Linked DNA regions of Homo sapiens. The protein of the gene in region 1 interacts with the protein of each later gene in a pairwise test. Each region holds a gene or a part of one and is shown on either strand. Other genes may lie near its edges.

What was found.
Region 2: the proteins of KCNMB4 (region 1) and MAL interact in binary tests that used the Homo sapiens proteins (3 or more experiments, as listed by UniProt).

Annotation. Positions count from the first base shown.
Region 1 is NC_000012.12:70,357,385-70,373,254, reverse strand, and holds the start of KCNMB4 (calcium-activated potassium channel subunit beta-4), read right to left. Parts: upstream 6,966-15,870; 5' UTR 6,521-6,965; coding exon 6,185-6,520; intron 1-6,184. UniProt on the Homo sapiens protein: Regulatory subunit of the calcium activated potassium KCNMA1 (maxiK) channel. Modulates the calcium sensitivity and gating kinetics of KCNMA1, thereby contributing to KCNMA1 channel diversity.
Region 2 is NC_000002.12:95,024,148-95,039,914, reverse strand, and holds the start of MAL (myelin and lymphocyte protein), read right to left. Parts: upstream 14,208-15,767; 5' UTR 14,123-14,207; coding exon 14,030-14,122; intron 13,576-14,029; exon of another isoform or gene 13,482-13,575; intron 13,357-13,481; exon of another isoform or gene 12,886-13,356; intron 1-12,885. UniProt on the Homo sapiens protein: May be involved in vesicular trafficking from the Golgi apparatus to the cell membrane. Plays a role in the maintenance of the myelin sheath, and in axon-glia and glia-glia interactions.

The DNA.
Region 1 (15,870 bases):
CTCTTTAACTCTAATTTCTCTTTGCTATGTGACATAAGACACTTACAGTTTTTGAGGGTTAGGATGTGGACATCGTGGAAGGGAGACATTATTCCTCCTACCATGGCTTCCCAGTATCTAGCAAACCCATCCTGGCTGCCTGGGTCTTCTACACTGTGGGCTCGAATTTACTCTCCAGCCTTACCCCCAAGACCTCATTCTATGTGCCCTGTGTTCCACACACACCAGTCCATCCAGATCCCCCAACACACCCCACACTCACACAGCTCATAGCTTTGTTTCTTGCATTTTATCTTCTTTGATGTTCTCTTCATTCCACCCTGCCTCCCTTTACTCACCACCAAGATGAAACTCTGTTCATCCTCGGACTTATAGCAAATGCTTCTTTCTCCATGAAGCTTTCCCCCTAACTTTTTCCCTCTGGATGTTCATATCATAATGTTTGTACCTCTCTGTAGAACTTGACATTCTGCCTTGTTTGACAGTTATTTGTGTCCTTATCTCCTCTGCTAGGTAATAATTTCCTTGAGGACAGAGGCTCATGGATTCATCCTCATATTTAATGTCTGTTAGGCATATGCAAAACTGAACCCTTGATTTTCATCCACACTCCTCCAGACCTACTATTCCTTTAGTTTTTCCCATCACTAAAAGCACCTCCGTTCACCCAGTTGCACTTGACACAAACTTTGGAGCCATTCTCAACTCCTCTTTCCCTCATTCCTCATATCCAATTCATTAGTAAATTTTACCAGTGCTACCCACTGATCTAAGCCACCACCATCTTTTGCCTGTCCTACAGGACTTCCTGTTTCAAGTCTTGCCTCTGCACCTCTCACTGCACAAGTCAGAATGTGTGCATGTGCATGTAAACATACATATAAATTCTGTTTTCAACTCAGCAGCGAGAGGGATCATTTGCATTTTTTAAAAGTCTAAGTCTGATGATATTTCAGCCCCGCTTAATGTCACAGATTCCCATCATGCTTGGAATAAAATCCAAAGTCCGTATCGTGTTCTTTAGGACCCTAACCTCATTTCCCACTGTCCACCTTGCTCACTGTGGTCCAACCTCACTTTCGCCCTCATAGTTCCTCACACAGACACTTGTCACAGGGCCTTTGCATGTGCTATTTCCTCAGCTGGTGGACACTCTTGTCTCCAGATAGCCACATGATTCATTACTTACATCCCTTCTGTCTCTGCTCATCCCCTCATGTTCTTTGGGTCTCTGTGTAAATGTCACTTCATCAGAGCGGCCTTCCCTGACCACCCTGTCCAAAAGAAGAGCCCTTCACGTATTTTGTCACTGTCTATACTCTTATCCTGCCCAAATTTTCTTTATCCACCTATCATTACATGACATGGCATTATACATTTATTTCTTGTCTGTTACTTCCCAGCAGAATATAAGTTCCATGAGTGCAGGAACTTTGTTTTGACCTATATTCTAGTCTCAGCACCTGAATGCACACATAGCTCAGGATACGTGTTTCATGAATATTTGTTAAGTGAACATATTCATCTTTGTATGCCCTCTAGTTTCTTGCCCAGTTCTTTGATCATTATAATAGATGCTGAAAAAGGATTTCCTGATTGAATTTTATGTATATACCAAACATTATATAACATCATCTCCAAAGGAAAAACAACCAAGAAATGCCACTTTTTCAAGATAAATAAAGGTTACAAAGAAGTCATCACAATTCTGCTTAGCCTTTTATCATGTAGTTCTGATATGATGGATGTCTCTAGAGCGCAAAATGTATCAAACTGAATGTTCCAGGAAGGAGTTCAGAAACAATTCCAGGCAGGCCACACTGCCTCTCCTACAGTGCACTGGGACAGGGTACATGAGTGGATGTGGAGAGGGCCTAGGTGACTGTGAGCCACCACGCCCTGTAGTTAGGTACATCCAACTTCAGCAAACGTAATGCCTGAAGCCTTATTCAGTCCCACCTAAGTTTTTCTTCTCCTTAATGCATTTCTCTCACTTCTAGAGTACTGGTTTCTTAGAAGGAGCCTTTTATCCTTTGTTTCTAGGTTTTTATTATTAGAGGAAGGGGAAAAAAAAACTCAAAATAAAAATAAACATATAGACCGGGCGTGTTGGCTCACGCCTGTAATCCCAGCACTTTGGGAGGCTGAGGCAGGGGGATCACTTGAGGCCAGGAGTTGGAGACCCGCCTGGCCAACATAGTGAAACCCTGTCTCTACTAAATATACAAAAATTAGCTGGGTGTGGTAGCACATGCCCGTAAGCCCAGCTACTTGGGTGGCTGATGCAGGGGAATTGCTTGAACCCAGGAGGCGGAAGTTGCAGTGAGCTGAGATCATGCCACTGCACTCCAGCCTGGACAACAGAATGAGACTCAAAAATAAATAAATAAATAAATGAAATAACCATATTATCTCTAATCACTCACTCTGTCTTGTCTCACATACAAGAGGGCAGTTTTAAAAACTCACCTTTTTTTTTTTTTGGCCATCCAATGTATATAATTATGCAAATGCAAATGTCTGGAATCAAGTTCATTTCATTTAAACTTATTGGTTTTAAACTATTATTTACATAATAATTTTAAATAATACTCTCCCTTTCCTTCAGAATTTCCTTTTATACCGACTCCCTAAATTCAGTAGCACTGGCCGGGCGCGGTGGCTCATGCCTGTAATCCCAGCCCTTTGGGAGGCCAAGGCAGGGGTGGATCACGAGGTCAGGAGATCGAGACCATCCTGGCTAACATGGTGAAACCTCATCTCACTAAAAATAGAAAAAATTAGCCAGGCGTGGTGGTGGGCGCCTGTAGTCCCAGCTACTCGGGAGGCTGAGGCAGGAGAATGGCATGAACCAGGGAGGCGGAGCTTGCAGTGAGCCGAGATCATGCCAATGCACTCCAGCCTGGGCGACAGAGCGAGACTCTGTCTCAAAAAAAAAACAAAAAAACAAAAAAAAACAAAAAATTCAGTAGCACCAACAATATCTTTTAATCTGAAAACACAAATATTAATCACAATGACTCCTTTTTGGTTCTCAGGTTGTTTTTCTTGCACAGCAGATGAGAACATTTTCTAAGACAGTGGTTTTTGAATCTTGTCTTCACATTAGAATCATCACAGAACTTTTAAAAAACATCAATGCCCAGGCCCCACCCAAGACCAAATCAGAATCTTGGAGAGTTGGACCCAGCCATAAGAACTTCTTTTTAAAGTTCCCCTGGTGATTCTAAGGTACAGCCATAGGTGAGAACCAAAGCTCCTAGCATATACAACTGTGAGTCACCAAGAGATAGTGCAGTGACTGGAATAGTAGCAAGAGGAAGTTGACCCCGAATTTAGATTTTGCTATGGTTAATCCACAGAGATAATCTCCCTGTGGACAATTTGTTGCCTTGAATACTCTATTACAAGACTGGATATAGTGATTGCTTTAGACAATAAGGATATGATTCAAAATACAAATAAATTCAGTAGGAACTCAAGGTATTTTAAAGAAATTATTAGTCAAAGATCAAATTTACTCACAGTATCTTCTTCAGCAGCTTATGGCTTAAGAAATTCTGTATTTGCAATGTATTCTTTCCCTCTCCTGCCTCTTACTGTAATTAATGCAGGAAACTCAAGGGAGAGGAAAAAACTCCTTATTCTATTTTTTCTAAGAAGTGATTTCCTAAGTGGTTTCTTGTGTTGGTGGGTCATGAAGAAAAGCCTGGAGGCGGCTGGGATTCAAGACACTGTTGGGAATCTAGACATTCTACAAAGAAACAGAGGGGAAGCATAGGCCTTCAATAAAGAGGTAAAGTAAGGCAAAGAAAAGATCTAGGCAGCCAAGAGCCAACAGGAATGGACAATGGGTATTGCCTAATTGCAGGGACACTGTGGAAACACTCTGCTTATGTACATGACTCTGGCATAATATTTTTATTACATTGAATTTTTCCATCACACTGCCTATAAGAATTTCCAAATTGAGAATTTATTGGTCAAAAATAGAAAGGTGATGCTAAAGAACAAACTTACAGTCTATAAATGATACAACATAATTATAATCTGGATAAAGAGATATAAATTGGTTTGGCTGAGAAAACCTTGACTAAAATGAATAGGATGTTGTCCATGACTTCTGTAACATAAATATATTCTTCTCCAGTTCTGTCAGTTCCTGAATACTTTACTTTATAAAATGTATTTTGTTCAGGTACTTTTTCAAAACAACTGTTGCCAAGATCTGAACTGGCACTGGAAAAAAAATGATTATTTTCAGGGGAGAGAGAGATAAAGAAAAGAGAGAGGAGAAATTTTAGTATTACATAAAGCATTGGGATTGCTTCTAGGTAATTTAAAAATCAACGTCCCAATGATTTCAATTTACTTTTTCTGCCAGATACTTCAAACTGCCTGAAAATTGTGAAGCAGTCTTTTTGTAATAAATTATAATTTGTCCTTGTCTTGATTAGATATTAGCCATTTATTAATGTGTGTGTGCATATATATGTATATATAGATATGAAATTTATTAGTGCTTGAACCACTATCTTAAAATAATTAGCAACGTTTCACCAACTATAACAACTTCTAAATGATGAACTGCCATATAATTTCTAAATCATTACTACTGGTTGGCACTCATCTTTGACATTATTGATTTAATTCTAAAAAAAAAAATGTTTCTAAAACCCTGAGATTTCTTTTTAAATTCCTGAGCATTAAGAGGATCAAGTTACAACATTTGTCTTTGAGACGTTATCACCTCTTCAAGATCTTTAACATTATACTCCAAATTCTATATTCTTAGTCCTATATTTACTGCTTATGTATTATTGATATTTTTTAAGGTAAATCAATATTCATTTGTCGACAGGAGCATTTTTTTTTTGAGAGGAGTCATTCATATTTTTAAAAAGAAATATTTTCTAAATGTCTCAAATTCAAGAATTTACTGTTCAGGAGGTAAGACCACAAGTTTTATTGCAGAGTGACGGTAAGCTGTTTTAAATACTATTATAATATTAATGTAGAATTTTTTTCTTTTGGATTAATATAAATATATCTTGTTAGAGTTAACAGAAAGTTTTCCTGTGAACACAAGATGCATTCCCTTTTGGACTGTTTTTCTGCTTGATCCCTCAAAAAAAGGAAAAATGTCAGTAACTTTTAAAAAGATACATACCTTTGATAGTTAAGCAACAAGGAGAGCAGAAAAGATCAAGGGAAGTAGAAACGGAACCAGAACCAGGTGCACTACAAAGCTCAATTAGTTCACAGGCTAAGGACACTGCTTTTTATAAGTTATTTTTCTCCATTGGGAACAGTTTTCTGAGACTTCCTCTCTCTGCTCTCCATCCCGGGAGTCCTAACCAGGTTTTATCTTTTTTTTTTTTCTTTTTCTTTTTCTTCTTGCTTGCTTTCGAGACCAATAGAAGTTGTCAGAGAAGTCATATTAGGTACATTTCACTGAAGGTTTTCTATTTTCAGCAAGTTTTACTGTTCTCCAGACGACTCCTGACTGTCCCTAAACACAAAGGGTAACTAGGCTCCCTGTAGACTCTTTTGAGAATCTATTTCATGAAAACTAGGAGCCCTCTGTACTTCCCAAAATGGACCCGCAATATTCCACATTTGATTCCGGGTCGTTTGTCAAGCCACAAAAGCTTATCTTTGAACCCCAAGTTGAAAATGCCTATGTAGAGCGAAAAGGTGAGGAACTCTCTCACAACTTTCGAGAGTCCCCTCGACCTTTCAAGGAAGGTCATTCCATCTGAGTTCTAGATGAGACCAGCTGAAGCTCGGACCTTGACCGTGAGCTGGAGTAGGTGGATCCCCGCTAACCACTGGCTTTAAATGGAGGAAAAGTTAACTTTCTTGGCTCCTTGCACTTCTCCAAACCCAGTCCGGTAGGCGCAGGACCCGGACTGGGTCGAGGCCTCAAAATCTGAGACCAGGCAAGACAGGTTTTAAAGTAAGCCTCTGGGCACCACTGGTCGCCGCGCGTAAACCCACCTGAAAAGACCGGAGCCCTGGGGCTCCCTGATGTAGTCATTCCTGGTTTGAGCACAGCCTGCGCCACCTGGTCTCCTCCTAGCAATGCGAGCACACGCCGAACCCTCCCCGCGCGGAGTCTAACACCGACGCTGCCTCCAAACCTCCCTCGCGGGGAGCCCCTGGGTGCGCGGGGCGTTCTTACCTTGGGGTTGGTCAGGAGCTGGTGCTCGTCGCTGTGCAGCAGCGCCCTAGAGTTGGACTCAGAGTTGTTCACGTAGACCTGGACGCAGGGGTACTGCGAGGTGCCCCTGCAGTCGGCGCCACAGGTGAAGGTGCACTCGAACACCTCGCCGATCTGCTGCACCGACAGCACCGTGCAATTGGCCTCCGTGGCTTGCAGATCCTGCAGCGCGGGACTCAGCCAGCAGAAGCCGAAGATGAAGAGCGACACGACGCCGGAGATGATGAGAAACAAGCCGAGCCGGATGCTCTTGTCCTCGGCTTCCGTGTACTCGTAAGCCACCCGGAGCTTCGCCATCGCCCCCCACTCTCGGCGGCTGGCGTGCTCCCCCCGCCCCCTCCCGCCCCCGGCGCCGAGCCCGACTGCCTCGGGCGGGAGGAGCCGCCGCCGCCACCGCCGCCGCCGCGCGACAGCAGGGGAGTGGGCGGCGAGGGGGAGCGCGCGAGAACAAAGGGGCCGAGGCCAGCGACGCCCCCGGCGGCGGCGGCGGCAGCGCCCCCCAGCCCCCCAGCCGCCGCCTGGGCCCCGCGGTGCAGCAGCCGCTTCAGAGCCTCCTGCACCCTCGGGCGCGGGGAGCGCACGGACCGCTCCAGCTTCCAGCGCCCCCTGCCAGCCTCCGCCCCCGCACTCTCCCCGCCTCCCCCACCCCGCCTCCTCTCGTCGGGTGTCTCTCTGTCTCCATCGCCCGCTGGCCGCTACTCCGCTGACTCGCCCGGCAGCTGCCCCAAGGCTAGGAGTGTCTGAGCTGGGGCGAGCCCGGGGGCTCCCCCGTGCAGGAGGAGGCTCCGCCCCGCCCCGTCCGCAGCAGACCCGGGCCCTTCCGCCCCGCCCCGCTCCGCCCCGCCCCGCCCGGGGGCGTCTCCTTTGGGCGAGGGGCTGACGGGCACAAGCGACAGCGGCGACTTGCAATCGGAATCTTCGCTCACTCCCCTTAGAGGGACGTCCGAGATGAAAGATTAAGATCAATTTAGCTTAACCGGAGGGAAGTTAAAATAATAATAATAATAAGAGGGGAGGGTGGAGTTCAAGTGGAGCGGCGGGAATCTTGAACTCCAAACGAGTACTGGTCACCTGCAGGGAGAGCGGCCAGGCTCCGGGCGCACCCCGGGAAGCGGGCACGGGTGGCGGTGTGGGAGGACACGAGCCGCCCAGGCCGGGCGGATCGAGGTGAAAGCCCCAGGCTAGCGGTGTGCGCTGGGAGGTCCCCGGGGACGACTGAATCGCAGGTTCCCATGCCACGGGCGGGCTGGCGCGCGGTGGTGCCGGAGGCGTGACCCAGCCGCGCCCACGCCGCCAGCGGCTGCGCCCAAGGGAGCGCAGTAACCGTCCAGTCCCAGGACTTGGGCCTCCTAACCGTCTTGGCGCAGACCCGCGCCCCCTGACCCTGCTGAGGCCGGGAGGGCTGCAGGATTGGAGTTAAACAAGCTGAGTCAGGTGGAGTTTGCTGTGGAGGCAATGTGCGTGGGGGCAGGAGGCTGGACGAAGGAAACTTGCTGCTTAGGTCGTCGGTGACCCTTGTGGCAACTTAGGTCTCTGGCAGCCGAGTTGACCCCAACTTGATTTGCCCCCATGGCTGGGGCTGACTGAGACCAAAGGAAAAAGGTGGAGAGCTTTGCAGCCTGGAAAGAAATACCACTTTACCCATCAGAAAAGTACTCTTGCTTTGGGGCTCGCAAGAACAGAATCATTTCTGTCGTTTCCCTCCTTAGGAGTCTTGCCACCCCTGACCCGCCCCAGGATTTGTAGATGAGGTTTCCAGGAGCGCTGCTTAAAGCGACAGCGCCGGGCAGACCCACTTTGGGACAGGTACTGTTTCTAGACCTGTGTTCTGCTCTTAATTCTTGCCGTTGCTCCCTCCTCCCCCAATTACGCTAACAATGCTTCAGCCTCTATTGTTTTCGCGACCTTTTTAAAGTTAGAATGACCTTTTCCCAAACTACACTTTTATCATAAAATCAAACTTGAGAACTATTTATATGTACATTTCGAAGAATAAAATCAGAATATTAACTTCCTTGCAAACTACATAAACTTTTTTTGTTTGCTTGTAAGTCTCAAATGAATAAACTCTTAATTATGTTCCTGATGAATACGGAAACATGGAATCATGGAATTCTTGACTTCTCTTTCCTGGACTTCAAATGTTACTTAACTGGTATTGAGTACCTTTCGACTGCAGTTCTGATAACGTTATTTTGAAGCACTACATTATGACAGGTAACAAGTATTTCCCAGCAATGGGCAAATTAATTACAGGAAGATCCTAAGTGTCTTTTTCTCAATAAATTAAGAAGATGTAGAGTTTGAAAAACGTCCAAATTAGGAAGATGCTTTGTTCTCTAATACCTTTCAGGTTTTGAGATTTTCTTTTTTTAATTTAAATGTAAGAATTGTATTCTTTTCCTGTTAGCATAAAGACAATTGTGATTACATTGCTTAAAAGTGAGTTTAATAATTGAAATAGCATAACCGAAAATCACAAATCTTCAATCTGAATCTTTTTCCTATTGCAGGAAAAATAAAAAACATAGGAAATAATCTTTTTTTTCTATTGTTATAATCTTCTTTTCCAAGAAAGGAAAAGCTATGTCTAAGATCTGAAGCAATGATGAACAAATAACAAGATACAATTATTCTAGCTCAGTATGTTGAGGAACTGAAATGAGGCAGAATTAATTCCTATTAATGCACAGCAGTTGGGGGACTACCAATAATTTAATGAATATGGTTCGTTTTTCAATGATTCCAGAGCTCAAAGTCTTCTGTGAATGAAACCTCTGCCTCAAAACTGAAGTACGGTGGTCTAAGTCTAGGGAACAAAATCAGAAAATTCTATCTTATTTTAACTGAAATTCTTGAAGTTTTAAAATTCATTTTCTTTCAGTTCTGCATTTAGTCAATTTCTTTCTTGGCAATTATTCTTAAAGTATTTAAAGAAACTTGTGTCTTCTGTTCTCTAGACATTTTTTTCTCCTGTTTCCTGTTTTTAATTTAGCTTTTCTCTGAACACTTTTATCTTCACATCTTTATTGAAAGTCAAACGTATTAAGACTTCACAAATTAAATCAATTTCTATTTTATTCTTAATGAAACACTGGAAGTGTTTATTAGTTTTACTTACTTGAAGCGGAGCTGCTTTATCACATTCCCAAGGAAGATTGGATATGTCAGCCCCTCAGTTTCAGAATACAGGTCACCACTTACTAAGTCAGAATGGTAGTAAGAACTCCAGGAAAGCTCAGAAATGCTAAGATCTGAGGTCACTTAAAATCTCTGTTCCCTGTGAAAGGTGGAAGTAGCACAGAAAAAGCAGCTAGTCCTTTCTTTGAATAGTGTTCCACCAATTAAGATTAAAAATGTAATATTAAGAACCAGACTGACTTATTTGATGTACATCGTCTGCAGTAGTTTTTCCAGTAGGATCATGGCCAGGTCTTGATAAAGTTCAATTTAAAAGAAAAATAAAGCCTGTCTAAACAAGGGCATCAAAGCCATGTTACTTATAATTTGTTCTCATGATCAATATTCAAAAAGTCCTGTGGCTGATGCTAAAGTTGCAGTATACAATATCATATGTATATATACTTTTTAATAAAAGATTCTAAAAATAATTTTAAGGCAGGCTTTTGTATCCTAGGAATAGAAGGGAATTTACAGCAGGTGGGAAAATTTTTTCAAAAATTGGCACATTATGAAGTTTTTTGATAACTGCCACTAAACACTTGAAAAGCGAAAATACATAGGAAAATAATGTATAATCACTTTTTCTATTAAAATTTACGTTCTAGAGTTTAGACCTTTTTTACTAGATATTACACATGATGAAAGTATGAGTGATCCAACAAAGAAAACCATATAAAACCATTTTATATTTTCTTCTTGATTCAGCAGCTATAATTATAGATTTTGTTAATGTCATAGGAAATTGAGTTCCAGCTTGCTGATACCAAATTAATTTCCTTGCCATGCTCCATTATGAGTGTTAAATATTTGTTATTAGCCTCAGAATTTTAAATTCAAAATACATTTCCTATGTGGTCACTATTTTTTCTGATTGTTTTTTCCTGGCCATAAACTTCACCTATTAAAATGAGCATATAATTATTACTAAGAACACTACTTACTATCTCTAATTACAGTAAATTAGAACAGGAAGGGATTTTAACCATTGCCTAGTTCAACATTAACCAAGAAGCTCCCAGACTTTGCATTTTGCTTGTAATTGTAGTTATTTAAAATATTTTTTAAAAGCTCAAATTTATGTTTGTGTATAGCCTTTATGTTTGCAACTGAGGAAAGCAAAACACAGACAATCAATTCACATTTTTTCCATTAAAATTTACATTCTGGATAGATTAGCAAATTTTTAATACCATACTGGTAGTGCTCTAGAGTTCCTAAAATCTCACCAACTGTTGAGTCTTTCATGTTAACTGCAGTGAATCTGTATGGGAGAGATATACACAGGTATGTAGTAAAAGGGAAATCAGCTTTGGAACTTGAAACATAGAGGCCAAGAGGTTTTGGTCCCAGCTTTAGTAGTAAATAATTTGACACAAGGTAAATAATCCTCTTAGTCTATTTTCTGTTGCTATAACTGAATACCTGAGACTGGGTAATTTATAAAGAAACTTATTTCTTACAATTCTAGATGCTGGGAAGTCCAAGAGCATGACAGTAGTATCTGGTCAGGTCCTTGTGTACCCTAACATGGCAGAAGGCAGTTCCATAGCAAGAAAGCAAGAATGCCTATTAACTCAGGCCACTGTACATATAAAGCCACCAGTCCCATCAGGCCCCACACCCTGATGACCTTATTTAATCCTAATTATCTCCCAAAGGCCCCATCTCGAAATGCCATCAAAAATATGAATTTGGGGAATATGTTCTAACACATTAAATTTGGGGGACACTTTTAAACCATAGCAATATTAGTTTCCTCCTTGTCGTACAAAAGGGTTGGTCTAGAAGAGTTTTAGTATTCTAGTATCTAATTCCCATTTTTGTTTTGCCATGCACTTTAGAAAATTGGGTATTGCTATATAACAGTATCTAGTGAAGTTAAAAGGTCTTGAACAGAATCCAAAAACATGGAGAGCCTGTCCTAGCATGATGGCTAACAGGAAGAGTGTTTGTCTTTAGAGAAATGGACCTACGTCGATGCAACACCTAATATAAGCTAGGTTATTTACAAATGCCTTAATTTAACCTTCCCATGAGAAGAAGAGGGAAAAACATTCAGAGATTAGGTAATTTTTGCAAGACTGCACACATATTGTGACAGGGCCAGGGGATTTTATATTTGCATTTTACATAGTATCTTATATTTAAGAAATACTAACTACTCGAAGATAATAAATTACCTAAAACAATTTTTCTACTATACTATGCCACTTCTAAGAAATTTGTTAACAAAAATGAAGTGTAGATAATACAAAAAGCATTTATGAATGGATTTAAAATGTGTTTCTATACTTATATTTAAGTACAGTTAGGCTTAATCAAAATCTCTACTGTGAAACGATTATGAAGGGGACGGTGAGTAGAGGCTGAAGGAACTAATAATTTAATCTGGTCCCCCTGCTTAATTTTACTCTGAATCACATTTGTGTTGAAAATAGCCTCTTCAGATGCTTAGCAAATAGTAGTAGTACTGTTTTATGTGGAACAGAGAGATTAAGTTAGGTTTCTAGTGGCTTGCTAAAAATTCAAGCTAAAATTCAAGGTAGAAGTAAATACAGGGAATAACTAGATGTGCAATAGTTATAAGGCAGAAGGAAATCCTATCCTCTGCAGACTGAAAAGCATCATCGAATATTTCTAATAATACTTTTTTTTTTTTTTGCCTTTTCTTGGACACTTCCAGTGATGGAAAGATATAACTCCTAATGATTTCTGGAACTTTTGAAAAATTATAAACTGGTACTTTATTACTGTAGATTGAAATTTGCCTTGCCATAACAGCTATGTAATGGTCCTTATTCTGTCCTCTGGCGTTATGTAGGATAAAGATATTTTTAAGAATAAAGCCTTACATGAGGCAGAATGGCGTGAACCTGGGAGGTGGAGCTTGCAGTGAGCCGAGATCGCACCACTGCACTCCAGCCTGGGCGACAGAGCAAGACTCCGTCTCAAGAAAAAAAAAAAAAAAAAAAAGGATTAAGCCTTACAAATGACTCTACCTCAGAGGTGAGAAGACAGCCATTATGTCTCTCCTAGGCCTTTTGTTATGCACAACTTCCAGTTTCTTCAGTATTCTCTTTTGATATGATGTAGGAAACTAAGGTTTTACCCTTAGTCCAAAATGCTAAGAATAATAAGTCAAAGTTGGAAAGGATGCCCCACTTTAACATTCGAAAGTCTGAGCTTTTCTTTTCCATGATATTCCAATTTACAAACACTTCTAGGATAATGGATTTTGTTGTTCAATGACAGTGTCATTGCAAATGTAGGGAATTTGGATTCCTAATAGTGATATACAAGTCAACTAATATTCAAATTTTAGACCTATATTAAGTCATTTAGAGTGAACTGAAAAAAATTATACAAAACTTTAGATAAAAAAAGGGAAATCTGGAAATAACTTTTTGAGCAGAGGAGTAACATGACTTGCATTTTTTAAAACTGAGATATAACTCATGCAATAGACAGCATGTTATATTTGAAGAATATTAACCACTTGAAGACAATAAGTTAAAACATTCAAAATAAAAAAACAAACATATCTTTCTCTTAAGAGGGGAAATATTTAACTCAAAGACAGCCCATTTTTCATGCACTGTTACATATGGTAATTAAAACTCCATCTTAAAATAAATGTTCAGTATGTAACAGATTTAAAGGTAGCTTTGAAACATTCTGGCTGCCCCAAATCTTTATTTTTATACATAAGAAGATGAAACTATTTATATCATTCCCTCATGTAATGTTTTCTCATTCAGATGTATAATTTTGAAGAATAAATGTTTAATTTAAAATAGTTTTCTCATTATAAATTAGTATCAAGAGGCCTGATTCTAAAAAGAATCAAGCAGACTCAGCGATTTGTGGACATCATACCACCCTTGAAATTTGAAGTATTCTTCCAAAATGTTTGAAGAATTCATGTATTATCATCAAAATTATCTTCATTATGCACTAGGAAATAGTTTGGCCTGGAAGAAAAAAGCATGTATTGTAAGTTTTAAAAGTAAATTATATGGTCAAAATGTCACTTAGGCCAAAAATAAATGCAAATCACAAAAACATTACATTTCAGGAAACACATACAAATTAGAGACCAGCTCTGATTCATAGTAAAGATTTGTTTTCCTCAGCTAGTGCCTTCAATTATTGTCTAAAAGAACTAACACTTTTGGCATAAAGCCAGTTTTATTTAATCTTCTCTAAGAAAGATGTCAAAACATTTTGGTGGTATGGTATGGCCTTTCAGGCCTAGAAATGAAAACTAAGATAAATTTCAAAAAGAATGAAAAATTGGCTTTGCTATGTAGAAGATAGTTTAAGTATTTTAGCACATGTCAACTGGTTATCATATGCTATTTGACTATGCAATAATTTGGATTTTCAAGATAGAGAATTATGACAATTAGGACCTTGTGAATTTTGACACTTTCAAGAAGTCATTTAAATAACTGAGAGAAAACTGTACAATAAACATGGAAATGACTAGCTTTTTAAAAAGCCCTATAAATCTTGAGTTCTTATGATAAAGAGACATGTCACTAAAATCTTGTCACAGTATTTACACAACTGTTTAATTGGATTAAAAAACCTTCAATTAATGCATACATAACTGATAATGTAATTCCCATTACATTATCAGTTTTTATACATACAAACTGAAGAGGAAATCTTAAGATCAGCAGAAATATTCCCAGGAAATAACTGAGATAAAAGCACTTTTGCTGTTTTATATTTATATATGGATTCAGCTTTCCTCCTGTTCTGCTAACAAATACTATTGTAGTAACATGGTTTCTGCCCTAGAACATTGGATGTTATAGGAAAAAGTAAATGAATGCCCCTGATACACAGGGATTATAATATTTAGTGGGATTTTAAGAAACAAGATTTTATTCTACTTAGTACTTGTACCCAGGAGATTGCACACTAATGCAACGTACAATTTCAGACTAAACATTTACGTCAAAACTTAAAAATTGTCTTTTTCCTCTTTCAAATGTAGAAATATACACATAAATAAATCTGGTGAATACACACATACATATGATTACTATTTGTTGTGCTTTATTAATGTTTCACATTCCTACTCCTAACATCAAAACAACTCTACATGTAAGTTCAATAAAGTTGCCTTTTGTAATTCTTTTTTGATTTAAATTTCTTTCCAAAGATATAGCAGTGATTTTAAGTATACCTTATCCATGATTCACAGAACAGCATATTCTTATGTACTTAAAGGTCAATGCTTTAAGTATATACCTTTTAGCCCTGATGACATCATAGTCTCCAACTTCAAATCAAGAAAAGGGTATCAGTACCTTAAAGAGCTGAAAAGAGGTCTGGAAGTAATCACATTCAACTTTTTATTTAAAAAGGCAGTCCTGTCAACTAATTGAGAGTCATTCAGTTTGTTTGCACATTGACTGAACCTTTACTTCATGAAGCAGCTAGTACTGTGTAGCACCTTAATATAGAAAAAGTCTGTTTCATTCAACTTCTCCTTATTGGTTTGAGACTTGCCCTATTCCAGTTCTTCCTGTGTTTGATGACAACTGTCATGCCTCCCCTTAGTATTCTTTAGTTGTCTCCAAGACCTACATCTCATCAATTCTAAGATGCACGTTCTTTCTTCACATAATAGATACATTCTGTAATTGGCAGCTTGTCTTAGTGGTACATAAAATGGTGTCCCTTACAATTGATGGCAATTAGATTTGCTGAAATACAGTAATTATCTCACTTACTTTAACACTTTTTCAATGAGCCACAGGAACATTAAGACATTCAACTCCTTACCTTATGCACAGAACACTATCCAGCCAGTCTCTCCTAGGTTATGTCCTATGAAGTTAAATCTAACGCCTTACAAAGCAACTGATTTAAAAATCTGAATTAACTCAGTTACTTTTTAATATTGCACTGAAATCCCTTATTTGTCCTAGTTCTGCTCTTCCAGTCACAAGAATGAGCTTAATTGCCTTTCATTGACAGCTCTTGAATTTGATACCTGAAGACAAATACCATGTTTCCAAAATTGTATTCCTATTTGTTTTTAAAATTTACTCTAAAATGGGAACACTAAATTTCACCTCATGATGCTATTCTTCAGACAACAATGTATATAAAAACACACAGCATTTGCCAGGCAGCTAGAAGGCATGCTACTTCTCCATCCCCTTCTGCCTTCCCCAGGCATGGCAGCTCTTCTAATACAGCATTCAAACAGAAGATGACATTTCAGATGAGTGATTACTTCCAGTAGAGTGGGCTTCCTATCTTTTTCTGAGTGCTATATTTTTCTTAATGTAGCTGAAGATTACATTAGTATTTTTGGCAACAGGATCACAATTCTTACTGATCTATATATGAACCACTCAAATCATGTTATATTCCACCATTCTTTATTAACAATCAAAGTGCAAAACTAAGTAATTTTCTTGATTGAATGTATCCTATTTGAT
Region 2 (15,767 bases), on another chromosome or scaffold:
ATCTGAGAGGGAGGATAGGGGACTCTGTTCCAGTTCTGAGAGGCAAGGAGTAACACCGTTTGGCTTCTTTATTTGTGTTAGCCCTACCTACCTCCTGGTACGAAGGAACTCAGTCCCAGCAAGCCAGAGGGAAGCTTCCCTCACTCACTCAGTCACTCACTCGCTCACTCACCCACTCACTCACTCAGTCACTCACTCAGTCCTCACTCAGTCACTCAGTCACTCACTCAGTCACTCACTCAGTCCTCACTCACTCAGTCCTCACTCAGTCACTCACTCAGTCACTCACTCACCCACTGTCACTCACTCACTCAGTCACTCACCCACCCACTCAGTCACTGACTCACTCAGTCACTCACTTACCAAGTCACTCACTCACCCACTCAGTCACTCAGTCACTCACTCAGTCACTCACCCACTCAGTCACTCAGTCACTTACTCACTCACTCACCCACTCACTCACTCACTCACTCACTCAGTCACTCAGTCACTCACTCACTCACCCATTCACTCAGTCACTCACTCACTCACTCACTCACTCAGTTACTCAGTCAGTCAGTCAGTCACTCACTCACTCACTCACTCAGTCACTCACTCACTCACTCACCCACTCAGTCACTCAGTCACTCACTCAGTCACTCACCCACTCAGTCACTCAGACACTTACTCACTCAGTCACTCAGTCACTCACTCACTCACTCACTCAGTCACTCACTCAGTCACTCACTCACTCACCAAGTCACTCACTCACCCATTCAGTCACTCAGTCACTCACTCACTCACTCACTCACTCAGTCACTCAGACACTTACTCACTCACTCACTCAGTCACTCAATCAGTCACTCACTCACTCACTCACCCACTCAGTCACTCAGTCACTCACTCACTCAGTCACTGACTCACCCACTCAGTCACTCACTCAGTCACTCGGTCACTCACTCAGTCACTCACTCACTTGCTCACTCAGTCACTCGGTCACTCACTCACCTACTCAGTCACTCACTTAGTCACTCACTCACCCACTCAGTCACTCACTCACCCACTCAGTCACTCACTCAGTCACTCGGTCATTCACTCACTTGCTCACTCACTCACTCAGTCACTCGGTCACTCACTCAGTCACTCACTCACTTGCTCACTCACTCAGTCACTCACTCAGTCAGTCAGTCACTTACTCACTCAGTCTCTTACTCAGTCAGTCACTCACCCACTCAGTCACTCAGTCACTCACTCAGTCAGTCACTCACTCAGTCACACAGTCACTCACTCACTCAGTCACTCAGTCACTCACTCACTCACTCAGTCACTCACCCACTCAGTCACTCAGTCACTCACTCAGTCACTCAGTCACTCACTCACTCACTCAGTCACTCAGTCACTCACTCAGTCACTCACTCACCCACTCACTCACTCAGTCACTCACTCACTCACTCAGTCACTCACTCACCCACTCAGTCACTCACTCAGTCACTCACTCAGTCACTCAGTCACTCATTCAGTCACTCACTCACTTGCTCACTCACTCACTCACTTAGTCACTCACTCACTTAGCCACTCACTCACTCAGTTACTCACTCACTCAGTCACTCACTCACTCAGTCACTCACTCACCAAGTCACTCACTCACCCACTCGGTCACTCAGTCTCTCACTCACTCAGTCAGTCACTCACACACTCAGTCACTCAGTCACTCACTCACTGAGTCACTCACTCACTCACTCAGTAACTCACACAGTCACTCAGTCACTCACTCATCCACTCAGTCACTCACTCATCAAGTCACTCACCCACTCGGTCACTCAGTCTCTCACTCACTCAGTCAGTCACTCACACACTCAATCACTCAGTCACTCACTCACTGAGTCACTCACTCACTCACTCAGTCACTCACACAGTCACTCAGTCACTCACTCATCCACTCAGTCACTCACTCAGTCACTCACTCACTCACTCAGTCACTCACTCACTCAGTTACTCACTCACTCACTCAGTCACTCACTCACCAAGTCACTCACTCACCCACTCGGTCACTCAGTCTCTCACTCACTCAGTCAGTCACTCACACACTCAGTCACTCAGTCACTCACTCACTGAGTCACTCACTCACTCACTTAGTCACTCACACAGTCACTCAGTCACTCACTCAGTCACTCACTCAGTCACTCACTCACCCACTCAGTCACTCACTGACTCAGTCACTCACTCAGTCACTCACTCACCCACTCACTCACTCACTCAGTCACTCAGTCAGTCACTCACTCACTCGCTTGCTCACTCACTCACTTACTTAGTCACTCACTCACTCTGTTACTCACCCACTCACTCACTCAGTCACTCAGTCACTCACTCACTCAGTCACTCACTCACTCACTCAGTCACTCACTCGCTTGCTCACTCACTCACTCACTCAGTCACTCAGTCACTCACTCAGTCACTCAGTCACTCAGTTAGTCACTCAGTCACTCACTCAGTCACTCAGTCACTCACTCACCCACTCAGTCACTCACTCAGTCACTCACTCACTCAGTCAATCACTCAGTCACTCACTCACTCAGTCACTCACTCACCCACTCAGTCACTCACTCAGCCACTCACTCACTCATTCACTCACCCATCAGTCATTCACCCAGTCAGTCACTCACTCACCCACTCAGTCACTCATTCACTCACTCAGTCACTCACTCACTTGGTCACTCAGTCACTCAGTCACTCACCTACTCAGTCACTCAGTCACTCACTCAGTCACTCACTCACCCACTCAGTTACTCACTCAGTCACTCACTCACTCACTCACCCACTCAGTCACTCACTCACCCACTCACTCACTCATTCACTCACCCACTCAGTCACTCACCCACTCAGTCACTCACTCACCCACTCAGTCACTCATTCACTCACTCAGTAACTCAGTCACTCATTCACTCACTCAGTCACTCACTCACTCGGTCACTCAGTCACTCAGTCACTCACTCAGTCACTCACCTACTCAGTCACTCAGTCACTCACTCAGTCACTCACTCACCCACTCAGTTACTCACTCAGTCACTCAGTCACTCACTCACTCACTCACCCATTCAGTCACTCACTCAGTCACTAAGTCACTCACTCACACACTCAGTCACTCAGTCACTCACTCAGTCACTCACTCACTCAGTCACTCACTCGGTCACTCACTCAGCCACTCACTCACTCACTTGGTCACTCACTCAGTCACTCACTCACTCAGTCACTCAGTTAGTCACTCAGTCACTCACTCTCTTACTCACTCACTGACTCACTCACTTGGTCATTCATTCATTCATTCACTCACGCATTTAACAGATGCTGACAGTGGCATGGTCAACACTAAGGCAGGCACACCCAGGGAAATGGATCTCATTCAAAGACACACTTTAATGAACGTAGCCCATCTCTCCCTTCCTCTCCTCTCTCATGCAGTCTTGCCACAGTCCCCACTGGAGCAGTTCTGGGTCCACCAAGGGTGGATTCAGGCCTGGTGAAAGTGTCAGTGTCTGAGCAATGGTGACCAGATACCAAACGTCACACAGGACAGGTACAGAGCCCGGTAGTTGGCACAAGATCCCCACCTGAGCCCATGAGGAGAGATCGGGGGAGGGGTCCGAGATTCTCTGGGTGGTGACCCTCTCCCTGCATCAACTGAAAAGGCAGATTATTGGGAGTCTGACCCCTGGGACTGCTACCAAAGAGAACCCTGGGAGCGGGGCTGGGACCTGACTTGGTTTACCTACACCAGTCACTCTCCCCTCCTGGCCTCTTCATTAGCAGGCTTCTTCCTCCCAGAGGGACCCCTCATGCCATCATCACCCCCAGCTAGCCTTAGACAGTGTTCCTTATCTAATCTGAAGGCAAGAGCAGGACTCAGCGGGTTTGGATCAGTTTGTGAAGAAGGGGATAGAGATTTGGGATTAAAAGATCGAAGAGCTGTTGCTGGGCACGGTGGCTCACGCCTGTAATCCCAGCACTTGGGGAGGCTGAGGTGAGCGGATCACGAGGTCAGGAGATTGAGACTATCCTGGCTAACACGGTGAAACCCCGTCTCTACTAAAAATACAAAAAATTAGCCGGGTGTGGTGGTGGGCGCCTGTAGTCCCAGCTACTCAGGAGGCTGAGGCAGGAGAATGGCGTGAGCCCAGGAGGCAGAGGTTGCAGTGAGCCGAGATCATGCCACTGCACTCCAGCCTGGGCGACAGAGCAAGACTCTGTCTCAAAAAAAAAAAAAAAAAAAATCTAAGAGCTGAGTGGAGGGCCATAGTTTATATTAACAAGGCAAGTTGGACTGGGAAGAGCCCCCTGTTCAGGCTTGCAATCTCACCCCCCTTGAGCCCCAGGGAAGCCTCTCCCATAGCACACGCTGCCAGCAGGACAAAGTGACTGCTGACTTAACACCCACCTCCCTCATGAGCTAGAGGATGGTCACTAGTTCCTGAATGCACAAAAACTCCTCTCAGATCCACAAATCTAGGGGCTTTCTGATAGGCATGTCTTCATTTGAATGGAAAATTCTGCCTACCACATCTACACCTGCTGGCCTTACCCAGCAGGATAAACAGAAACCAAGAGGTTCTGTGAAAATACTGGGTAAGCCACCTGTAAAAGGCAAAATCCGTGGAAATGCTGGACCAGACAGGAGTGGCTTAAATGCAAGAAAAACAAAAGGGATTTATGGGAGTCACCAGGTAGGTTAGTAATGTGAACAAACCAACAAAACAGGTGTACACCTGCCAGAGGCGACAGAAGGCTGCCCGCCCAGGGTCTGGGAGGGTCCAAGGGAGATGGAACTCCCAGAGTCTCTTGGGGACTGGCAGCCTTTGTCAGTTTCACCCTCTGTCCGCCTTTGAGGTCAAGGACTCATCTTATGATTCATCAGTGTTAGGTAGGTGAGAGAGGAGACCCGAGCCCCTTCCCTACCGATGCTTGCTGAGAACAAATGTTTCAGAGTTCTTGATCTGTGCCAGGGATGTGGGCAGACTTAGGGTGTAGGCACGAGACAGACAATAAGCAAAGGTCTGCAGGATGTGCTCTGAGTGCCAGGAAAGGGTGCTAGAAGGGTGGGCTTCCCGGTGGAGGGGATGGGTTAGCTCGGGCCTAAAGGGTCACCTCCAACAAAGAAGCATTCCCACTGCTGCCCCCAACCTGACCACAGATGGAGATGAAGGAGGTCTGTGGCTGGTTTTAGAAATAGTCCTGAGACCCATAAGCTCGGCGGTTCCTTTCCTGCCAGGCCCCTCAATCCAACTATGCCCTCCTGCCAAGCAGCTGGGGGCCAGGATGGAGGCTGGGGGAGGTGAGGGCACAGGTTTTTGCCAGAGGCTGCCCCCTCCCTGAACTGATGCCCTTGCATACAGCCGACACACTGACACTGATGACAAATCGCTTTTGAAAGCTTTAATCTGAGCCTGCTGATAATTCATTCCTACGCCTGCGGGCAGATGTAGCTATGTGTCACACTCAGAATCCACAAAGCTCTGCCTGCCCATCTTGGCACCAGGCTGGCAGGGTGATGCAGAGAGGCTTAGAAAGCAGCCTGCTCCCTGGGCAGAAGGCAGGCTGGGGCTGCCACACTGTCCTCCACCCCTTGGCTGCTCCATCAAGCTCTTAGCTGAGGACACACTGACCTCTGCCCTCAGTTGTTCCTTCTTGGTGAGAGGAGAGCCACTGGGAAGGCCCCAGGAAGGTGGTGTCTGTGCAGGACTCGGTGACTCCAGGGAAAAGTCAAGTGTGCCCTCCACAGCCTGGCCCAATCCCAATCCTCATGCAGCACCTGCCTGAGAATGGAACAGAGGGCACCTATGGCAAAGGTGATGGGGGCGGGCCTTGCGGACCCTGCCATCGGCACAGGTCGGCCAGTTGGTTTCAGAGCAGATGCTTAAATTATTAGTCAACTAATAATAACAGCACTTGATAGCTATGGGGCAGTAGCTATGTGAGGCAGGTGCTGCTATGTCCAAATTTTACTGATGCAGAAACTGAGGCACAGTTACCTGCCCACGTTCCCACAGCTGCCGGGTGCTCCTTTGATGAGCTGGCTGAGGCCCAGATCCAGGCCCCCATGGGTGTGACAGTTACCTCTTGTGTCTAGGGTCAGCTTTGGAAATGGCCATGAGATTTTTGTTTTGATGACAGGTTCTCACTCTGTCACCCACACTGGAGGGCAGTGATGCGATCACAGCTCACTACAGCCTTGACCTCCAGGCTCAAGCAATCCTCCCATCCCAGCCTCCTGAGTAGCTGGGACTATGGGTGCAAGCCATCATAGTTGGCTAATTGTTTACATTTTTTGTAGAAATGGGGTCTTGCTATGTTGCCCAGGCTGATCTCAAACTCCTGACCTCAAGTGATCCTCTCACCTTGACCTCCCAGAGTGCCAGGATTACAGGCGCGTTAACATGGAGCCTCCTCCATGTTAACTAAGTGGCGAATAACCACTTAGTCTTTAGGCCACTCCCAGCCGGCTTCTCCCTCCCTGGCCCGCCACTGAAACAATGAGTCTCAATATCCTCTGTTTCTTCAGAGGAAAACAATAGCAAGGTTTGTGTTTAAGACACATACAGCACAAGATGAAATGCCAAAGGATCCCGCTCCCTCTTCGGCAGATGCAGGCCTGTAGTTCAGTCTGAAGAAGAGGGAGGGGCTGCCATGCAGACCCCACCCGCCCCACTCCACTGACAGGTCAGGGAACGTCATCTTCTGTCCTTCCCCGTGGCCCTATTCCTGGAGTGCCCACCTCCCGGGCCCCCCGTGGGCCTCCCTCCAAGTTGGTTCTGGGACCTTCACTTTCTGTCTCCTCCCCCTGCCCTTCCAGCCCCTCCCCTCCCAGCCCACTGCATTCTCACAGGGACTGGAGGCTGTGGCCAGGAACTGCAGGTCAGTGAGGCTGGCTGTGCGACCCTGCACCTTCTCTTCCCGCTGCGGAGGTGCTGTGGCTGGTGACAGGCTTTCCTTTGATTTCCTACATATGTTTTGCAGGACCCAGGGCCCGGGTACATTAAAATGATTCACCCAATCCTGGCATAGAACACTAGCTGTGAATGAGGTAGCAGCGGCAGAGAGCCTGGGGAGAAGTGCTGCAGAGAAGCAGAGTGTGGCACGTTCATGACCCCAAGAAGGGAAATGGCTACACTGCTCATGCCCAGCTAGGAGCTCACTGGGTATCAAACCTTTCACCAGGGTGTCAAAGGCAATTTGGAGCCTTCCAAATTGATGAGAGACCACGAGGGACCTGCTCCATGCTCCATGCCCTTGGGAACAATCTGAAAGCTGTGAGAAGGAGCTGGCCACACACCCCAGAACGTTCCTGCTTCAAGGACAAGGGGCACAGTCCCCCACTGTCCTCACACCCATCAACACCAGGAGGGTACACCCTCTGGGGTGTCCTATCAGCACCTGTCCCTGAGGCCTGCTGGTCCAAAGCACCATGTCCGGCACTGACACTGGAGGGGCCAGGAGGAAGCCCTGGAGTGGCTTAAGTCAGCCCCCAGCCCCTTCTAGTTCAAGTCTGGCTGGCTCTGTCCTGTGTCAAGGCAGGTCCCAGGTGGTCCAGTCCCTACTCCCAGCCCCTTCTCTGGAGAATGTGTCTGGGCCCAGGACAAAGCCAAGCCACTGCTAAGGCTGTGCAGAGCTAGTCTGTGCTGGCAGCACAATATGCTCTGCCCCTCGCCTGCTGGTGTGGCGAGTATAGGTGCAAAATTCAGCCCTTGTCCCTGGCCGACCTGAGTGTGAGCGCTGCTGGCAGCAGCATCGTGGGGCTTCCTACTCACTTCTGAAAGCACTGGGACAGAAAGGGTGCCTTTGCACCAGTTCTGGCATTGCCCCATCCCTGTGAGGTGGGGGAGTGACTTATGAAAAGCTAAAAGGCAATCTTTTAAAATATAGCTCAGGTGTGATGACACATGTCTGACAATCCTGTGGAGATGAGCCCCATCATCACACTTAGCAGTTTCCAGGGAGCAGCTCAAAGTTACTGAGTCCTCACCAAAGCCAGCCTCTGGTCTTGAAAAACCAGAAAAGTCACTTCTCCACCAAACCCCTGTGAAATCTCTGTCTAGAACACTTCTCCTCCCTTTAGAGAGGAAGAGAGGAGAAAACACGGAAGATCAGGCAGTAGCCCTCTCTAAATAGCTACAGAGAAGGGACAGAGCCAGGAGCCAGTGGACACAGTCAGAGAAGGCCAACTCAGCCACCATCCCATTCTGGCCAAGCGGGGCCTGCCCCACTCCCTGGTGCCTGTAGGAGAGGCTCCTAGCTAGCACAGCAGGGAACTTTCTCCAGAACAGAGGAGGTCCCTGGTCTGACTTGTGAGAACCTCAGAGCACCTGGCTGCTTGCCCCAGCCTCTCCCTGAGAACTGTTCCCACTATTCTATCCCCCATAAAAATATCAAGAGGGTGGCCTGGCCTCGAGATGTCCGCTCCAAGTCTCAGCCAGTCAGTGGAGGGTGTGCAGTGCAATGCGGGTTCTTCAACCTGCCCTGGACCTCGTGACTCAGAACCTGCAGGGTGTGTTTTTGACAAGGAGACCCAGAGGAGGTGTGAGCTTCCCAGTGGTCCTGAGCTGTCCCTTCATTCCTGTTGGGGGAGAGAAGGGACCAAGCCTTGCCCAGAGCTGCCAGGTGGGCAGGGCTGCCTACTCAGGATCCCAGTGTGCCTTCTAGTGCAAGCAAAATCTCGTGTGGCTGATTAGGTGAAAGGAGAAGCCTGGGCATGATCTGCTCACTGCCAGAAGTGCTCACTGGACCCTGGAGACCCGGTGACCCAGGCAAGTTGCTCCCTGTCTGAGCCTCAGTTCCCTGCCAGCTCTGAAAGTGAGGTTTCTGTCATTCTACGTCTCTGGTCTCCTAGGAGTTCCCATGCCACCTTCTCAGTGCAGCCACAGCTTGGACCACCTAATGCGAAACTGCCTCGCTGGCCCATGGCCCAGTCCCGGCTCTGTCGGGCTGGCTATTCCCCAGCCAGGTAGAAATCTAGCAGAAGTCCCCAGACCTCTCTGGTCACTCTTAATAACAGTCCAGTCACTTTGGGTCACAGAAAAGGTGTCATTTTAGTCATTACTCTGTCCAGTTCACTGTAACTGTCAAAACTGCAAACTGATTGCGGGTGTCTCCCCACCCCAACCCCAACCCGTGATGTGACTGCACTTCTGTTCGTGTTTCTGAGGCACAGAGGAGGAAGGGCATGCCCCTGGAGGGCTGGGCGGCATTCCTCACACCCTCACTCACAACCCTGCCTCCTTTGTGGCCTGGGGAGGAGGGGGCTGAGTAGATGATCTCACAACCCTCTTCAGGCACTTCCTTCACAAGTCCTGAATGGGTAGGGGGTCTCTCCTGGCACTCTGTGGGAGACCTCGCATCTGGGGGCCCCAGCTGAGACAGAAAGCCTTCCCTGTGAACCTTTCATTCCCTGAATGGTGGCCCAGTGTCAAGGAAGTCCCTGGCTTAGAATGGAGACGGAGACAGAGACAGAGAGTGGCTCCAAAAGGAAAAGTTCCTCACTGGGTGGGACTTTTGCAGGGGAGCAGACGAGAAGCAAAGCCCTGGGTTTTGTTGGAGGAGGGGAGAGCATTGGCTATTTCACCCTTGGCCTATATGGGGCTGCACTGATGACCACACCACCTGCAATAGGGGCACAGCCTCTGTGGCTCTGGAGGTATTTGGAAAGGCAGTCTCACTTCCTAGTTGGGCCTGCCTTCCTCTTCCTGTGAGGACTCTGCAGCTTTCAGAGGTCAGGAGGTCTGGGATAGGGGTGCTGGGCCAAGGAGAGGTTGCTATGCCCCACCCTGAGCTGCCACCCTCACTTGCTCCAGTGGGCAGTCCCCTCACCATGGAAGTGGCGCTCCACCCGGATCAGCTTGGACATCTGCGCCTCCCAGGCTGTTGGGAGGTCAGGCATGGGAATCTGAACTATGAGTCATCAACAACTCAGTGGACTACAGATTTAAAAAATAATCAAGCATTTCACACCCATTGGACTAGCAGAAAATTATAAAGTCTGACGCTACCAAGTGATGAGGAACAATGGCGACTTTCATGTGCTGCTGGTAGGGGCCGGGGAAGGTCCAGGTTTAGCCTGAAGCTTAAACAATCAGGAGGACCATCTTTATAAGAGAATACAAAATTAGGCAGAGTCTTGGAAGGGGCTTGAGTAAGTAGGGGTCTTGAACTTAATTAAACATCAGCTTCCCAGTAAATCTGCTCCTGGGGTGTGTAAATTGGAATTACTCTTTTGGACGGCAATGTGATAACACCTGGGAAAATGACAATGTGCATATCCCCTGTGACCCAACAAGTCACATCCTCCAAGTGTCTCTGGGAGACATTTCCAACAGGTAACTACAGAGGCAAATATGAGAATGTTCTTAGCAATGCTGTCTGCAATAGCTAAAGGCAGCAAATTGGAACTATCCAAAGTGTCTATTAACAGAAGACTGGGTAAACAAAGTCAACATGTATAAATCTCAGAACATAATGTTGCCTGGAAAGCATGTTGCAGAAGGATACGTACTGTATGCTGGCATTTTCATAAAGTGCGAAAACATGTAAAACAATGCCATGTGTAGTTCATATGTGTGCAGTAAAAGTCTAACCTGTGCTTGGAAGTGAACACCACATTCAGCCTACAGGTGGCCCTGAGGACGGAGGGAGAGAGAGAATAAGATAACAGAAGGATGTCTAGGAGGCTTAGATGCCATCTGAAAGCTTCATTTCCTTAATACATAACAGCAAACAAGGCAAAATATTAAGATTTGACAAAGTTGGGCAATAATTATGTAGGTGTCTGTTAAAGTATTGTATATGTTCTTCTGTGGCATTTGAAATATTTCTATTTTTTGTTTTTTAAACTTGAGGTGAAATTCACATATCATCAAACCAATCATTTTAAGTTGACAGTTCAGTGGCATTTAGTACATTCATGGTGTTGTGCACCCACCAACTCAATCTAATTCCAAAGCATTTTCATTACCCCCAAAAAGAAACCACATAGCGATTAAACAATTGCTCCCCTTGGTCCCTGGCAAACCACCAGGGTTTGTGTTCTGTCTCTATGGATTTATCTATTCCAGTATTTTATATAAACGGAATCATACACTATATGACATTTTGTGCCTTGTGTCTTTTGCTTAGCATAGAGTTTTCAAGGTTTATCAACTTTGTAGCACGTATCAGTACTTCATTCCTTTCTATGGTCAGGTAGTATCCATTGTTTGGATATGTCGCACTTTGTTATTCAGTTCATTGCTGATGGCCACTGGGCTGTGTGTTATTGTGAAGACTGCTGCTATGAACATGCATGTGCCAATACTAAAGTCCCTGCTTGGAATCCTTTGGTTATATACCCAGGAGTGGAATTGCTGGGTCAGAGGGTAATTTTTTGAGGGAACACCAAACTGTTTTCCACAGTGGCTGAACCATTTCACATTCCCGCCAGTGGCATACCAAGGGTTCCAATTTCTCCACATCCAATACTTGATGTTTTCCGTTTTTTGGATAGTAGCCATCCTAATGGGTGTGAAGTGGTATCTCATTGTGATTTCTTTCTTTCTATTTATTTAATTTATTTACTTATTAATTTATTTTTTTGAGACCGAGTCTCACTCTGTTGCCCAGGCTGGAGTGCAGCGGCATGATCTCGGCTTACTGCAACCTCTGCCTCCCAGGTTCAAGCGATGCTCATGCCTTAGCCTGCTGAGTAGCTGGGACTACAGGCATGAGCCACCCAAGCCGGGTTTTTTTTTTTTTTTTTTTTTTTTGTATTTTTAGTAGAGATGGGGTTTCACCATGTTGGTCAGTCTGGTCTCGAACTCCTGACCTCAGGTGATCCACCCACCTCAGCCTCCCAAAGTGCTGGGATTACAGGCGTGAGTCACCGCAACTGGCCTCATTGTGGTTTCAATTTAGTTTTCCTAATGCCTGATGATGTTAAGCATCTTTTTATGTGCATATTGGCCATTTGTGTATCTTCTTTGTAGAAACCTCTGTTCAAGTCCATTGTCCATTTTCTAATTGGGTTGTCTTTTTGTTGTCGAGTTGTAATATTCCATAATTAAAAAAACCTCTCGAGTAGCTGGGAGGCTGAGGCAGGAGAATGGCGTGAACCCGGGAGGCGGAGCCTGCAGTGAGCCAAGATCGCGCCACTGCACTCCAGCCTGGGCGACAGAGCGAGACTCCGTCTCAAAAGCAAAAACAAAAACAAAAACAAAAACTCTCCCGGGGTGGCCAGCGCCTTCTCAGGCCCTTTAATTCTCCACTCCTTCCACACATCAAATATATACAGCTTCGTATTTACAGTCCATGCAGAGGAGAACTGAGAGGCTTGGGGTCAGCTTTCTCCTCTTCTCTCCCAGGCACCTGCGAGCCCACCCCTAATCTAGAGCATGTGGAAGATGCCTGGAGATGACTATGCATTGCGGGTCTCCTGGGAAGTGAGGAAGGGAGGTGGGGAACAGGGGTGAGGTGGAGAAGTGACTTTCTAAGTCAGCTGAGAGAAGCGTTCTGGGCGAGGGGGAGTTGTTTCTTCTGGAAGCCCCGCTACCGGCAGGCCACAAAGCCACGCTGGAAGAGCAAGCTGCCAGTAGTAGATGGTTCCAAGGTTTCCCACGCCCCTGTAATTTCTGCAGCATTGGCGGGTTGGGTGGGAGTCTCCGGTCACCTTTCCCGCAGATCAGATCGCCCCGTCTAACTGGACTGTTCCTACTCTCAGGGGCACTCCTTCTTGTATGCTGAACTTCTAAAAGGAGGCCAGCGGGGGGCTGGCTCTCTGTAAACGGTGGGGCTGCGTTCATTGGCGTCCAGGGTTTCTTCTAAATGTAACTGCTTTGATTCCGCCTATCCCTAGGATTTCAAGTCACCGGTTCCACCCAGGTTTGGGTTCGACTGGACTTTCACCCTAAGTTCAATGGTAGCCCTGCTCCCAGGCCGCCGCAGCCCTCTTAGCCTCTGCCCGCAAGCCCTCTTTGGATGAACTGACCTGCTCCCTTTGGTATTCACACCCTCCCCCTCCAATCAGGCAATAACAACCTGGGGTCCAATTTTTAAACAGCCAGGCTCCGACATTTTCTTTCCCGCCCAACTCTCCACGCTGACACTTCTGAGGGTGGGGTGCCGGAAAAGGTGTCCCTCAGGCGGTGACGGACCGCACCCACAGGACATACAGGGCACACCCCTCCCAGGTGAAGGCCAGCGGCCCCCGGGGAGTTGAGGCTGAGGGAGGTCACTTCGGCTTCGCGACACCGTGAGCGCTTATCAGGAGTTCTCAGTAGGAAGCGCTTTCCTGCAGCCTCAGGCAGAGACCGTGCGTGCAAGGCGGGACCGACCGCAGGTGCAGAGGCCCCGGGCCTGCCCAAGGTCAGTCGAGGCGCGCGGATCGCTCTCGCCGCCACCCCCCACCCCCCACCCCCCATCTCCTCCACCCCCACCCCGCACACGGGGCAGAAGGACTGCGGCCAAGCAAACGATGGCCTCATTTCCAGATCGAATTGGTCGCAAATACGTTCCCTCGCCAGAAACTTTAAAAGGCCAGAAGAAAATAAACCGGATTCAGCTCCCTCTCATCTCCAAATCTCGGTTGGTAATACTAATGTTTCTCTTGCTGATTTTTTTTTCTTTTTTAACGAAACCTTCTCCCTTGTAAAAGCTGCGCACTTCTACCCAACCGCGCAAAGCGCGGCGGGAGCTTCGGTGGCGCTGCGCGCGTCAAGTGGGCCCCGCGCGCAGCTTTGGGACCAGCGAACCAAGAGCCGTCCCCCCCTGCCCCGCTGCCTACATCTGACCCCAGTTGGGAACCCAGTTTTTCCTCCATAGTCCTGTAGACTGTTCCCCTCATTCTGTTGGTCTAGAAGGGCACAAAGGACCGGAGGTGGGAGGGGACTTCCCTGGCTTAGTCCCCGCCCTGCGCCTGCTGCCCCGATGCTCCCAGAACCTGCGCAGCTAGCGGATCCCGTCCGACAGCTGTGCTGGGCGCCCGAGAGAGCGCACGGCTCAGCCCACCCCGTCCCTTCCCCGGCCAGGAGCCACTCACAAACTCAAAGATGAAGAGCAAGTCGGGCAAGGTGGTGAAGACCGAGAAGCCACTGGGCAGGGTGCTGCCCCCCGTCGCCGCTGCGGGGGCCATGACGGCGTGCTGGCGTCGGCCTTGGGACGGGACGAGCGCCGCTCAGACTCCGCGCAGACCTCTCGCTGGCTCCGCGGAGCCCAGTGGCCTGGGCGCCCCCGCGCGCGGGTTAAGAGCAGGGGAGCCCGGGGCAGAAGAGGGAGGAGCCCCGGCCGCCGCCCAACCCCGCCCCCCGCCCCACGCCCCGGGAGACCCGGCCCGAGCGCCGCGGGCACCGCCCTGAACCTCTTCGAGGCCCCGCTGCGGGCGTCCAGAGCTGGGGACTGTGGGTCTGACTCCTGCGTTCCAGCCGTGGGTGCCACCTCTTGCGGGAAGCAGGGCAAAACCACTTTGGTCAGGCGCTCCTCGTGCCTTTCTCCCTTCGTAGGTGACCAGCATCTCGTAAGAATGATAACCATCAGTAACCGGGACCCCAAACCTTCTCATCAAGGCACCTCTCGGGTCACCATTACTTTAACTTTGAATTTGGGTCTCCTTCATTTTTCCGCTGGATGCGTTAATGTGCGCGACCCACAGCTCCAGGCGGCGGTTTCCTGGCGGAACTGGACCACCGCCACAGGCTGGGGGTCTGCAGTGGGGGATGGGACCGGCCGCGGCCGCCGGCCCCTTCCGCGTCCACTGAGCCGGCGCTGGTTCGGCGCTGGGATCCTGCACCGGGCCTCTCTGCTTGGTGCTGCGCGTCTGCCTGAGAGTAGGAGGTTGCTCCCAGCTGTGCCGGCCCCAGCAGAAGGCTGCTGGTGGTGGTGCTGGGGCAGGTCGGCCTTGAATCCATGCGACAGGAAGGGACGTTACCAGAAGAGATTCATCGCTTTCTCTTGGTCTGGGCAGCCCGGGCCTTTTGAGGGTGGGACCGCTGCTACCCCCACCCCCAGGTTCTTTGCCTGCCTGTTGACTGCCGGTGTTTCATGTTTTGTTTCTCTGTTTCACTATTTTTTATTTTTTGCCTTAAAAAAAAAAGTATTACCATGCAGCAGTTGCCCATTTATTTTAATTTACTATTAATAGTGTGATTGCTGTGTTTCCTCCTACAAACACTGAAGCCTGAAATCCGCCCGAGTCCGGATTCTCGCCTGCCAAAAGGGAATTGGCCCCGCAACCTCCAGCTTAGACTCCCAACTCTTCTTTCTTTCCATTGGCAGCTGCTGCAGGCAGGACAAGGGGCTCCCCTTCTCTCCAGTGGGGCCTTCACCTCTCCCTGCTGCACAATTCTTCCTCCTTCCCAGTCCCTAGGGAGAGAAGTATATTCGTGGACGCATTTTCCAAAGCAAAAGTAGCACGCCCATCAGCTGGCCATTCTAAGTGCCTCTGGAAAGGGGCCAGGCATTTGAAATGAGAAAACCCCACTGTGCCTCTGTGAGCTGCCAGCCCGGACGGCTGCAACCAAGGTGCCATTGTGTCGGGTCCCCAGGGCAGCATCTCTCTGGACACAATGGGCTGTGGGACTTTAGGAGCCCAGGTCCTCATCCACCTTGGGCATCTCATAGCTCGTTAGTTGGACCTGCTGGCCTCTGAGAGGACATCTTCTTCCTCCCCAGGAGACCGTCCTGGGAACAAGCCTTAAAGCAAGGTGGCCACAGGAAGCCGCAGCCTGAAGAGAGGTGAGATGACCCTCAGGCAGTCCAGCGAAAGCTGCTTGGAGATTTCC